2 separate regions of the Homo sapiens genome follow, and region 2 is linked to region 1. The links come from fine-mapping of genetic effects on gene expression. A gene starts in region 1. The other region holds a variant in brackets. All regions are shown on one strand. Distances are from middle to middle. Region 1 holds the start of CCN3 (cellular communication network factor 3). Region 2 has its middle 32 kb from the start of CCN3.

Region 1 (5,379 bases):
AAAAAAAAAAAAAAAAAAAGCCTGTAGAATAAGGATATAAAGAAAATATTTTTGTACATCTGTACAATGTATCTGTGTTTTAAGGTAGGTGTTATTACAAAAGGGTCGAAAAGTTAAAAAAATTAAAAGTTTATACAGTAAAAAAGTTACAGTAAGCTAAAGTTAATTTATCATTGAAAAAGGAAATTTTTGAATAAATTTAGCTTAGCCTAAGTGTAGTGTTTATAAAGGCTATAGTAGTGTGCAGTTATGTCCAAGGCCTTAACATTCACCCACCACTGACTCACTGACACCCACTGCAAGCTCCATTCACGGTAAGTGCCCTACACAGGTGGACAATTTTTTATCTTTTATACCATATTTTTACTGCACCTTTTCTAAGTTTAGATATGTTTAAATCACAAATACTTACCATTGTATTACAGTTGCCTACAGTATTCAGTGCAGTATATTCTGTACTGTTTGTACGTTTGTAGCCTAGGAGTAATAGACTATATCATACAGCCTAGGTGTGTAGTAGGCTACACCATCCGCATCTGTGTAACTACACTCTATGATGTTCACACAACAATGAAATCACCCAAGGACACATTTCTCCAACAATATCCCCATCATTAAATGGTGTGACTATAATGATTATCCAGTGAGTTATGAGATAAAAGAGATAAGCTCGGCATCCCAGGCCTGCACTGCGGATAACATCTATCCCGGCATGAAGGATTTCAGAGACTATGTCCTGGAGGCAGTGAAGCATGACATGACATGATTATCATCAGATGGTATCACTTTCAATTTACAATTGTTTTAAGATGAAGATCCTCATCCTAGAGCATTTATAGCAGATGATGGAGTGGATGTGTATTGTTTTGCTCACCAAGCTTGCTTTCTTTTTAAGGAACAGTCCTTTCTTCCCAAGAGAACTGCTCTTTCTCTCCATTCCAACCATGAGGTTCTAACTAATCCCCATACTTCACCTTCCTTGTCCCCATTGATTAGTCCAGGGTGAACCCATCCAATTTAATTCCTGGAACTTTTAAAGTTGGGCCTAAGAGACAGGGACATTCCTTCTGTGGTGATAAGGTCATAAAGTAAGAAGATTGGAAGGATCATTTTTCCCTTATGTGGAAGTAATCCTGTTGGCCCTCCTCTCTCTAGATCCCAATTGCCTCTGAGGACTCCCTGTACCATTCCTGTGCTGTCACTATGTGAAACATCACAGCATCCTTCCAGTAAAGTCCTCTTTTCGCAAAAACTAGTTCAAGTTTGGTTTCCATCTCTTGCAATCAAAACTGAATAGCAATTTTACACTTGCAGTGACTTCTTGACATGTTAATCCTTGTCTTAAAGTTACATTTTCCCTGTCACCACTCCCACCCCACTCTTTCCAAGAAGAGCTAGCCCAATCTCCATGTTGCCAATTTCTCCTTGTTCTATCTGAGTCTATTCATGCTTGGAACACTTGGCCGATGCTCTTTGCCTCCCCATTAGCAGTGCTTCTAGTTGCTCCATTTCAAAGTACATTAAAATGCTGTCTACCAAGAGCCACCACCAGAGAATCCTACTGAGTGGGTCAAGAGTGGGGCTCAGGAATCTGTATTTTTAACAAAATACATGCTGGTTGATTCGATCTGCAGCCAGATGGAGGCATCATTAGGCCAAATGGCTTACAAAACCTATCAGTTTTTTTGTTTTTTGTTTTATCTTTTTCTTAAACTTTTATTTCAAGTTCAGGGGTAAATGTGCAGGTTTGTTTACACAGGTAAATGTGTGTCATGGACATTTGTTGTGCAGATTATTTCATCGCCCAGGTATTAAGCCTGGTACCCATTAGTTATTTTTCCCGATCTTCTCCCTGCTCCCACCCTCCACCCTCCAAAGCCTATCAATTTGAAGAGTAGGTAAATGTCCTACTCAAGAGTGCAAATGAACTGTTTCATCTCTAGTTAAGTTTGAGTACTACTCAGTCTCATTTACCTCAAAGAAAGCAGAACTATTAGAGGCTTGGAAGTGTGTCATAGTGGTTTCAGGCTGCCGAGAGAATTATCTAGAAGGGGCTTGAGGTGACCTCATCATCTGCGGGTGTTGCAGAGGCAGACCTGGCCCCTTCCGCAAGCTGCCTTTGATTTCCTTCATGCTGGGGACAGATGAGGTAGAGGCCATTTGTTTCTTTTTAAACTCTAGAATTACATCACAGGCCTGTATAATTTTCCTTAAAAAGTGTTTTTTGTTTTTTTCCAAAGCAACTATCCTCAAAAGAGCTGGGCATAGTTCTCCTAGGGGCAGCACCAGTGTTGAAGTGTGGGGGGAAACTGTTCTAAATCCTTCAAACAATGTCACCTTTGGAGCAGTAAAACTGCTCCCTTTTTCCCATGAGAGATGACAAGCATGCCCCAGCAATCATTTCTTGAAAGCGGATGCCCGGTGAGAGAAGGATTTGATTTGCTGAAGGGTCAGCCAAGTTAAGCCAGTTTCTTCCTCATTTCTTCCCTGGCTGGAGGTTTTGATGGTGGTGATGGTGGTTGAACTGAACCCACTTAGAAAACTGTCAAAGGTTTCTGGACTCTCAGGTGTGCCGTCTCACATTTGGTCTGCTACAGCAGGTGCTTCAAGGCTTTCTTCTGCCAAGATTTCTTTGTTTTATTTTATGATGTTTTCTTTATGTGTGTGTGTGTGTGTGTGTGTGTGTGTGTGTGTGTGTGTTTTACTTTTATTTCTAACAAACCTGTGGACCTTGGGGTTTAAGACTGAGTGAAGCTAGAAGGATTAGAGTCAAAAGAATTTTGCCATTTGGCCAATAGCATTCCCCACCTCCTGACATATCGATTTTTTTTCTAGATTCCCTTCCCCCTGCCACTCCCCTCCCCCCAACACACACACACTTTTCTCTTTCTCCTCTTTCTCTCCTTTCCTCCCTTGCTTCTCTCCCCTCCCTCTCAACACATTCAATGAGTGCCCTAAACGGTGACAAACTTGCATGTGCTTCCCTCATGACTAAACCCCTGGGCCTTCTGCCAATCCCCTGCAGATGGCCCCAAACTGCAGGCATCCCGTAAGGGGACCCCACGCTTGCAGCCCTGGTTGGAACGGTCAGGGTGGAGGAGGATGGTGGGGAGTGGTGGTGTCTTCGTCCTGGGAGAAGGCGAAGCAACTTCCAGGAGGAAACGGGCGTTTCCTTCCCACGCGCTCGAGCGAGCCCTGGGTCCTGGCCTCGGAACTCCACCCAGCCCCTCCCCACCCTCTGGGAAAAGCCAGTCGCCACACACAGGCACACGCAGGCCCCGGCGCCGCGCCCTAAGGAGAGCAGCACCCACAGCCAATTGCCATGGCAACCCCGGGGTTCGTTCCACTTCCCCACCCAGCCGATCTCCCCCCTCCTCCCTGCACTGCAGCCAACCGGCTTGTGCGCGTCCCAGGAGCGCGCTATAAAACCTGTGCTGGGCGTGATCGGCAAGCACCGGACCAGGGGGAAGGCGAGCAGTGCCAATCTACAGCGAAGAAAGTCTCGTTTGGTAAAAGCGAGAGGGGAAAGCCTGAGCATGCAGAGTGTGCAGAGCACGAGCTTTTGTCTCCGAAAGCAGTGCCTTTGCCTGACCTTCCTGCTTCTCCATCTCCTGGGACAGGTAAGTGGCACACCCTTAAGATGCCCCCAAGTTACTTTGCCCGCCTTGGTGGCCCCCATTTGGTCACCGGGCTCACTGCGTCTTCTGTCCCAGCTGAGTGGTTTCTCCTTGTCTCGCCTGCCTTCAGGTCGCTGCGACTCAGCGCTGCCCTCCCCAGTGCCCGGGCCGGTGCCCTGCGACGCCGCCGACCTGCGCCCCCGGGGTGCGCGCGGTGCTGGACGGCTGCTCATGCTGTCTGGTGTGTGCCCGCCAGCGTGGCGAGAGCTGCTCAGATCTGGAGCCATGCGACGAGAGCAGTGGCCTCTACTGTGATCGCAGCGCGGACCCCAGCAACCAGACTGGCATCTGCACGGGTAATCCTGCTCCCTCTGCTGTTTGACCTCTTCTCCTGCAGCTAAGTGAAGCTGCTTCCTCCCTTCTCTTTTGTATTCCCCTTCCCAGAGGGCGATAAGCAAATAATAATAATGCAATAAATGACATGTATAGAGCACTTACTGTGTGTCAGGCATGGTTTGGGGAGCACTTGGGGCTTTGGGGAGCGCCAGAGCCAGAAAGGAAACCTGCCCTGGGGGTGAAAGGCATTCCTCACTTGGCTTCCTAGACAAGAATCTAAGCAAAGGGGGAGCCACGCAGAGTTAAGGGCCAGTGAAGTCATTTCCTTCGGACACTTCTAGGGGGCCACTTGGGGCTGATGGAAGCTCGGGTTTACTCACACGCTCACAGTTTCCCAAACTGCAGTTGGGGAAAACCCAGCAGGTTTGTTTTCACACCTGTAATTGTCCCATTTGAACCAAAGCAGCTGCTAGTCTCCTGGGATAACTATGTAACCCTTTTCTGGCTGCAAGTAAAATAAAATGCAGGCAACTAGCCAATCCAGGCTTCTAAAACGTAATCAGTCGGGGATCAATTTTTCACATGATACAACATTGTAGTTGAAGATTGTCCCTTCCTTTCTGGACAGGAGGGCTTTTACTTTTTTCTCTAAGCTACTGATGATTTTATTATGCTTGAGTGTCAAGGAATCTTAATGCCCTTCCCAATTTGATCAGCTAACCTGTTGGAAAACATAAAGTACACTTTTTCTCTTTTTAAGTCTAAGCTGCTGGAGTAGGAAACTCTAAGGAGGTTCTCGCAAAATGACTGAACATTGGGAAAAATGGCCAGGGGACCTTGGGGACATCACTTCACAGTTGCACACCTCTTTCCTCATCCATAAAATGAGTGGCAAGACTAGATGATCTTGAAGGTTTCTTCTTGCTCTGAGAGGCCTCCATGAGGACATCACTCTACAGTAGATACATGAGAAACCAGATCGCCTGAACTAGAAAAGGACTTGGGTTTTGGAACATGCCCTCCAAATCTTACATAGCTTCTTCACTGTATTGTGTTCTTGTTTTTCCTCTTCCTCTTTGCTTTTCACTTTGCTTCCCCAATATTCTAGCGGTAGAGGGAGATAACTGTGTGTTCGATGGGGTCATCTACCGCAGTGGAGAGAAATTTCAGCCAAGCTGCAAATTCCAGTGCACCTGCAGAGATGGGCAGATTGGCTGTGTGCCCCGCTGTCAGCTGGATGTGCTACTGCCTGAGCCTAACTGCCCAGCTCCAAGAAAAGTTGAGGTGCCTGGAGAGTGCTGTGAAAAGTGGATCTGTGGCCCAGATGAGGAGGATTCACTGGGAGGCCTTACCCTTGCAGGTGAGAAACTCAATATACCTAGGGCTGGTCATAGTAGAGGGTAAATACAAACATGAAGAATTTGCA
Region 2 (5,379 bases), 33 kb after region 1:
TTTGACGTCTAATTGTTAACAGCAGTTTAACCTACCCTACTTACACTTATGGCTTACAAGGCCTGGCATTAACCAGCCTGTCCCTACTCTCAGACCACTTTCCTTGAACCATCTAACCCAAGTTACAACAGTGTCCTTCATGTACACGAGCATCCCAAGTTCTCAGAGTCTTTCCAGGTGCTTCTGTCTCTGCTGTTGCCTTCTAACATCACACGGCTGACTCCTATCACCCACTGGGACTTGGCTTAATTACTAACTCCTCAGAAAAGATTGGTCTGGCCATTCTAATTAAATAGGCCTCTACCTTATGCATACCATTCCCTTACTCTATAGCACTTATCATAAATTAGAATTATACATTATTTATTTGTTTAATATCTGTCTCTTGTATTAGCTCCTTGAGGCTAGAGTCCATGTGTGTAGAGTGTATATATATTTTTTTCTTTTTCAAAATATTCACTTCCTCATCCAATGTGAGGATTTCATATTCCCGCCCTACTGAAGTCAGATGTGGTCATGTAACTTTCTTTGGCCAATGAAATATGAATGTAAATTACATGTGCAGTTTCTGAGAAGCAGCTTTAAGTTCTTTTTTTTTTTGGTGGGGGGGCGGCGCAGGGGGATGGAGTCTCACTCTGTTGCCCAGGCTGGAGTGCAATGGTGCGATCTCGGTTCACTGCAACCTCTGCCTCCTGGGTTCAAGCTATTCTCCTGCCTCAGCCTCTCGAGTAGCCGGGATTACAGGTGAGTGCCACCACGCCTGGCTAATTTTTGTATTTTCAGTAGAGACGGGGTTTCACCACGTTGACCAGGCTGGTCTTGAACTCCTGACCACCCGTGATCCACCCACTTCAGCCTCCCAAAGTGCTGGGATAACAGGCATGAGTCACCATGCCTGGCTGGCTTTAAGTTTTTCATCTGGTTCAACTAACACTATTTCTGCTCAGAGAAAGGAAGGATTAAAAGGGAAAGTCATGAGCTGCTGCTTTTTTTTCTTAAATTGAGGTGAAATTTGCGTAACATAGAAATAACCATTTCAACTTGAATAGCTCTGTAGTAGATAGTACACTTATCAGTTGCTTTTGTTACTAAGTAACTCAGAACAATGTGAGGCTCCTATTGGAAGAAATTCTCAGAGAATTTGGAAATGGAAACTACTAGGAAATGCCCCCTACCTGGTAGATTATACTGGTTGGAGGTCAAGACCCCGATGCCCCATCACCCGGGAGAAGGAGAGAAAGGGAAATCCTGGAATTTACTAAAGATGGCTGGGGTATAAAATTAACTATAAAATAAAACTGGAAAGGAGACACTTTGTATGAATTTAGGGTTTCATTTGAAATTGTAGTTATCCCAAAGAAGGTAAGAATGACCAAGTAACTATTAAAGCTCTAGTTATCAGAATTTTCCCATTGGATTGAAAAGATTTGGAATGAATGACAGATCAGTTTCTTCTCATACACTCCCACTATCAGGTAGCAAAAGGGAGAAAATAGCCATGAAAAGAGAAGAGAGGTATGGAAGTAAGGATTAGTGGTGCTGACTGGCTCTCAGTTTTATTTTAACTTTTAAATCATCCTGTCTTTCATCTAGAGAATAATGATGTTGGGAAAAATTTCCCCATTAGAATAACTTTACCCCAAATAAAGAACAATGAAACTAGCAAACCCTTAGTCAAAATTTGGAGGAACTCACAGCTTGAAGTATTATAAGATTACTATAAATTTCTCCCCAAAGCTATGATTTCTGTTTCACAGAAGAAATATGCCCAATGACTACATGATTAGAAGTTAGAATGGATATCAGTTCCACCCCTTTTTATTTTATAGGTAAGGACACTGAAAACCCCAACTCCACTCAACAGAAATATTTTTGATCCTGGATAGAGTTACTGGGAACATATTCCAATAAATCTTTATGAGTGTATTTTTAACATAAGCATAACTATAAGCTAATTCATTCATATAAATTAGCACTTCTGCCAGTTAATAGGGGAAGAAGAGGGACAGAAATATAAATACATACAATGATCTATTCCTCTCCTCACGAGTTCTATAAATAATATTTCATCATTGAAACAAAACTTATAATACCTCCTGATACTCAAGACAATGATATTTAAAAGTGGAAAAGGCAAAAGGAACCGAAATGGAAGTAAGGTTTCCATGCTTTACTTGAATTAATAAAGTATTGATACATTGACTGCAATAAGTCACATATATATATTATAATATCCAGAGCAACCACTAAGAAAATTATACAAAGATATGTACCAAAAAACACTATAAATAAATCAGTGGAGGCCAGGCACAGTGGCTCACAGCTG[T/C]AATTCCAGCACTTTGGGAGATTGAGGCGGGTGGATCACTTGAAGTCAGTTTGAGATCAGCCTGGCCAACACGGCAAAGCCCCATCTTTACTAAAAATACAAAAAAAAAAATTTAGCCGGACATGGTGATGCACACTTGTAGTCCCACCTACTCAGGAAGCTGAGGCAGGAGAATTGCTTGCACCTGGAGGTGGAGGTTGCAGTGAGCCGAGATGGTGCCACTGCACTCCAGCCTGGGTGATAGAGTGGGACTGTGTCACAAAAACAAACAAACAAATCAAAACAAAACAGAAAACCCTGACACTGGGTAATTCATAAAGAAAAGAGGTTTGGTTGGCTCATGGTTATGCAGACTCTACACTGACATCACTCAGCTTCTGAGGAGGCCTCAGGGAACTTTCAGTATAATGGCAGAAGGTGAGCAGGAAGCAGGCATGTCATGAGGCCAAAGAGGAACAAGTAGGGTTGGGTGGGGGAAATTGCCACATACTTTTAAATGACCAGATCTTGCAAGAACTAGCTCAGAACCACAAAAACAGCACCAAGCTGTGAGGGATCTACCCCCATGACCCAAACACCTCCTACCAGGGCCCAACTCCAGTACTGGGGATTACAATTTAACATGAGATTTGGGCAGGGACAAATACCCAAACTACATCACATTTCTTGCTTTCCAGTCACACTAAGTCTTCTTGAAAGAATAGTCTATGCTCCCTTCTCTACTTTGTTGTTGTATCTTACTTATGGCTGCAAGAAACAGACTACTCAACTAAAAATTTCCCCAAACAAATTGGATTCTATTGACTCGCATAATAAGCTAGGAGATACGTGGCCTCCAGCATTTGTTTAATGCACAATAATATCTTCAGATATGTAAGTTCATTCCTTTCTTTGATTCCCTCATCCTCAGATGGTGTCCTCATGTCTTTAAGAGCATCTCCAGGGATCACATCCTCACACAACTACTTAGACAGGAGGAACAGGAGGAACAGGAGACAAGGAAGAAGGCTCTTCTTAATCATTGTTCTCTTTCTTTTCTTTTCTCTTTTTTTTTCAGACAGAGTCTTGCTCTGCCACCAGGCGGGAGTGCAGTGGCATGATCTCAGCTCACTGCAACCTCTGCTTCCCGGGTTCAAGTGATTCCCCTGCCTCAGCCTCCCGAATAGCTGGGACTACAGGCACGCGACACCATGCCTGGCTAATTTTTTTGTATTTTAGTAAAGACAGGGTTTCACCATGTTGGCCAGGATGGTCTCCATCTCCTGACCTTGTGATCTGCCTGCCTTGGCCTACCAAAGTGCTGGGATTACAGGCGTGAGCCACCACACCCGGCCCCCGGCCCTCTTCCTTTTCATCTGTGAGAAAAAGTTCCCTAGCGGTCTTTCTGTAGTTCCCCTTGATCAGATTTAAATCGCATGGCCATCTCTACTAACAAGGAAAACCACAAAAGCATTTTAAGACTCTATCCCAGCAGGAGACTCTGCCTGTAGGGAAGAAGTGAAGAGAGTGGCCCTTGGTAAATTGGCCAAGAGAATTGGCTATGCTCATCATCCTTTTAGTTTAAAGAGACAGCAGTGTCTGGGGAGTGCAGTGGTGGAGCATGCGAACTTTAAGCCCCTTTTCTGTTTGAACCTCCTACAGAATTTTAGCATATTGACTACTTCCTCCTTCCCACAAATTTCTACTGGAACAAGTAATTTCACATCACCCTATCCTAATGTCCCAGTATCTCTGTGCCCCTTTCCATTCAGTCTTGCTTTTCCATCGTGTCTTAAATGTAAATAAGCCTTTTTTTCTTTCTTTCTTTCTTTTTTTTTTTTTTTTTCTAGACAGTCTCGCTCTGTCACCCGGGCTGGAGTGCAGTGGCAAGATCTTGGCTCACTGCAACCTCCACCTCCCAGGTTCACGCAATTCTTCTGCCTCAGCCTCCCAAGTATCTGGGACTACAGGCATGCACTACCATGCCTGGCTAATTTTTGTATTTTTACAACATTTTACAAAAAAAAAACCATGGTTTCGCCATGTTGGCCAGGCTGGTCTCAAACTCCTGAACCTCAGGTGATCTGCCCACCTCGACCTCCCAAAGTGCTGGGATTACAGGTGTGAGCCATAGTGCCCAGCTGTGAATAACCTGTTATCATTCTGCCCTTGGCTCCATTCTCTTCTTGCCCTGTATCAGCCTGTCATGTCCTCTTTAGATTATAGTTGCTTTGAGAAAATGGAAGAAATTACCTTTAAAATGCGCAAACCCATAACATATAGGTGAGTATATAATTTGGGGGAATTTAAAGACCCCCTAAAACCCATCCATCAATCACTTTGGGACTCCCTGATCCATACTCTGGAAGTCCTTGCTCCATGTATTCTCCCTGGACACTCTCAATAATGCCATGTTTTCAACTGCCATCCAACGTCCCTCACATAGGTAGCACCACCTTAGACCTCTTTGTTGAGCTCCAAACTTATAATTTCAACTATGTAGTAAAATCCTTCTCAATGTTTGTTGTAGATGTTTCGTACCGACCTCATCCCAAAATAGACTATCTTTGATCATTATCCCTCCTTGCTCCGGTCTGCTCCTCCCCTTATATTCTTTCTCTATGTTAATAGGATTTTTATCCAAGCAGATAAGTTCTAAGTATTGTCACCTCCCATTTTTTTCCCCTCTCCTACATTCAGCTGGTCTCCATGTCCATTCAAGTGTATTACAAAGGCTCTCTGAAACTTGTCTCCTGTTCTCCATCTCTCCTGCAACATTCTGAATAGATACTTCATTATTTTCTTCCTGGGTTAGCACATCAGACTCATACTAGTGATTCCCTCCTTTAGTCCCCGCTCCATGCTAACACCAGGGATCTCTCACTACAACCAAATTTTAATCACCTTCCAGATTAAAATCTACTGTAACATCCATTTCCAACACAAACCAAAATTCCTTAGTATTACATCCATGTCTTCACATTGTCTGACTCCTGTAGCCATCTCCTTCCAATATTTTCTGTCAACGCCCCACATGTAGCCTATGCTCAGACCACTACTGCCAAGTCCCTGAG

The links.
Region 2: its variant is fine-mapped to the expression of CCN3 in whole blood (TOPMed, PIP above 0.99).

Annotation. Positions count from the first base shown.
Region 1 is chr8:119,412,997-119,418,375 of GRCh38, forward strand. It overlaps CCN3 (cellular communication network factor 3), which reads left to right and starts at 3,450. Exons shown (of 5, transcript NM_002514.4): 1 at 3,450-3,620; 2 at 3,748-3,973; 3 at 5,062-5,313. The coding sequence starts at 3,537. It overlaps LOC124902009 (a long non-coding RNA gene), which reads right to left and starts at 3,313. Exons shown (of 2, transcript XR_007061077.1): 1 at 1,975-3,313.
Region 2 is chr8:119,446,134-119,451,512 of GRCh38, forward strand. No RefSeq gene overlaps it. Among named protein-coding and RNA genes, the nearest start is that of CCN3, 32 kb to the left of the region's middle. The variant T/C (reference allele first, on the strand shown) is at 2,327.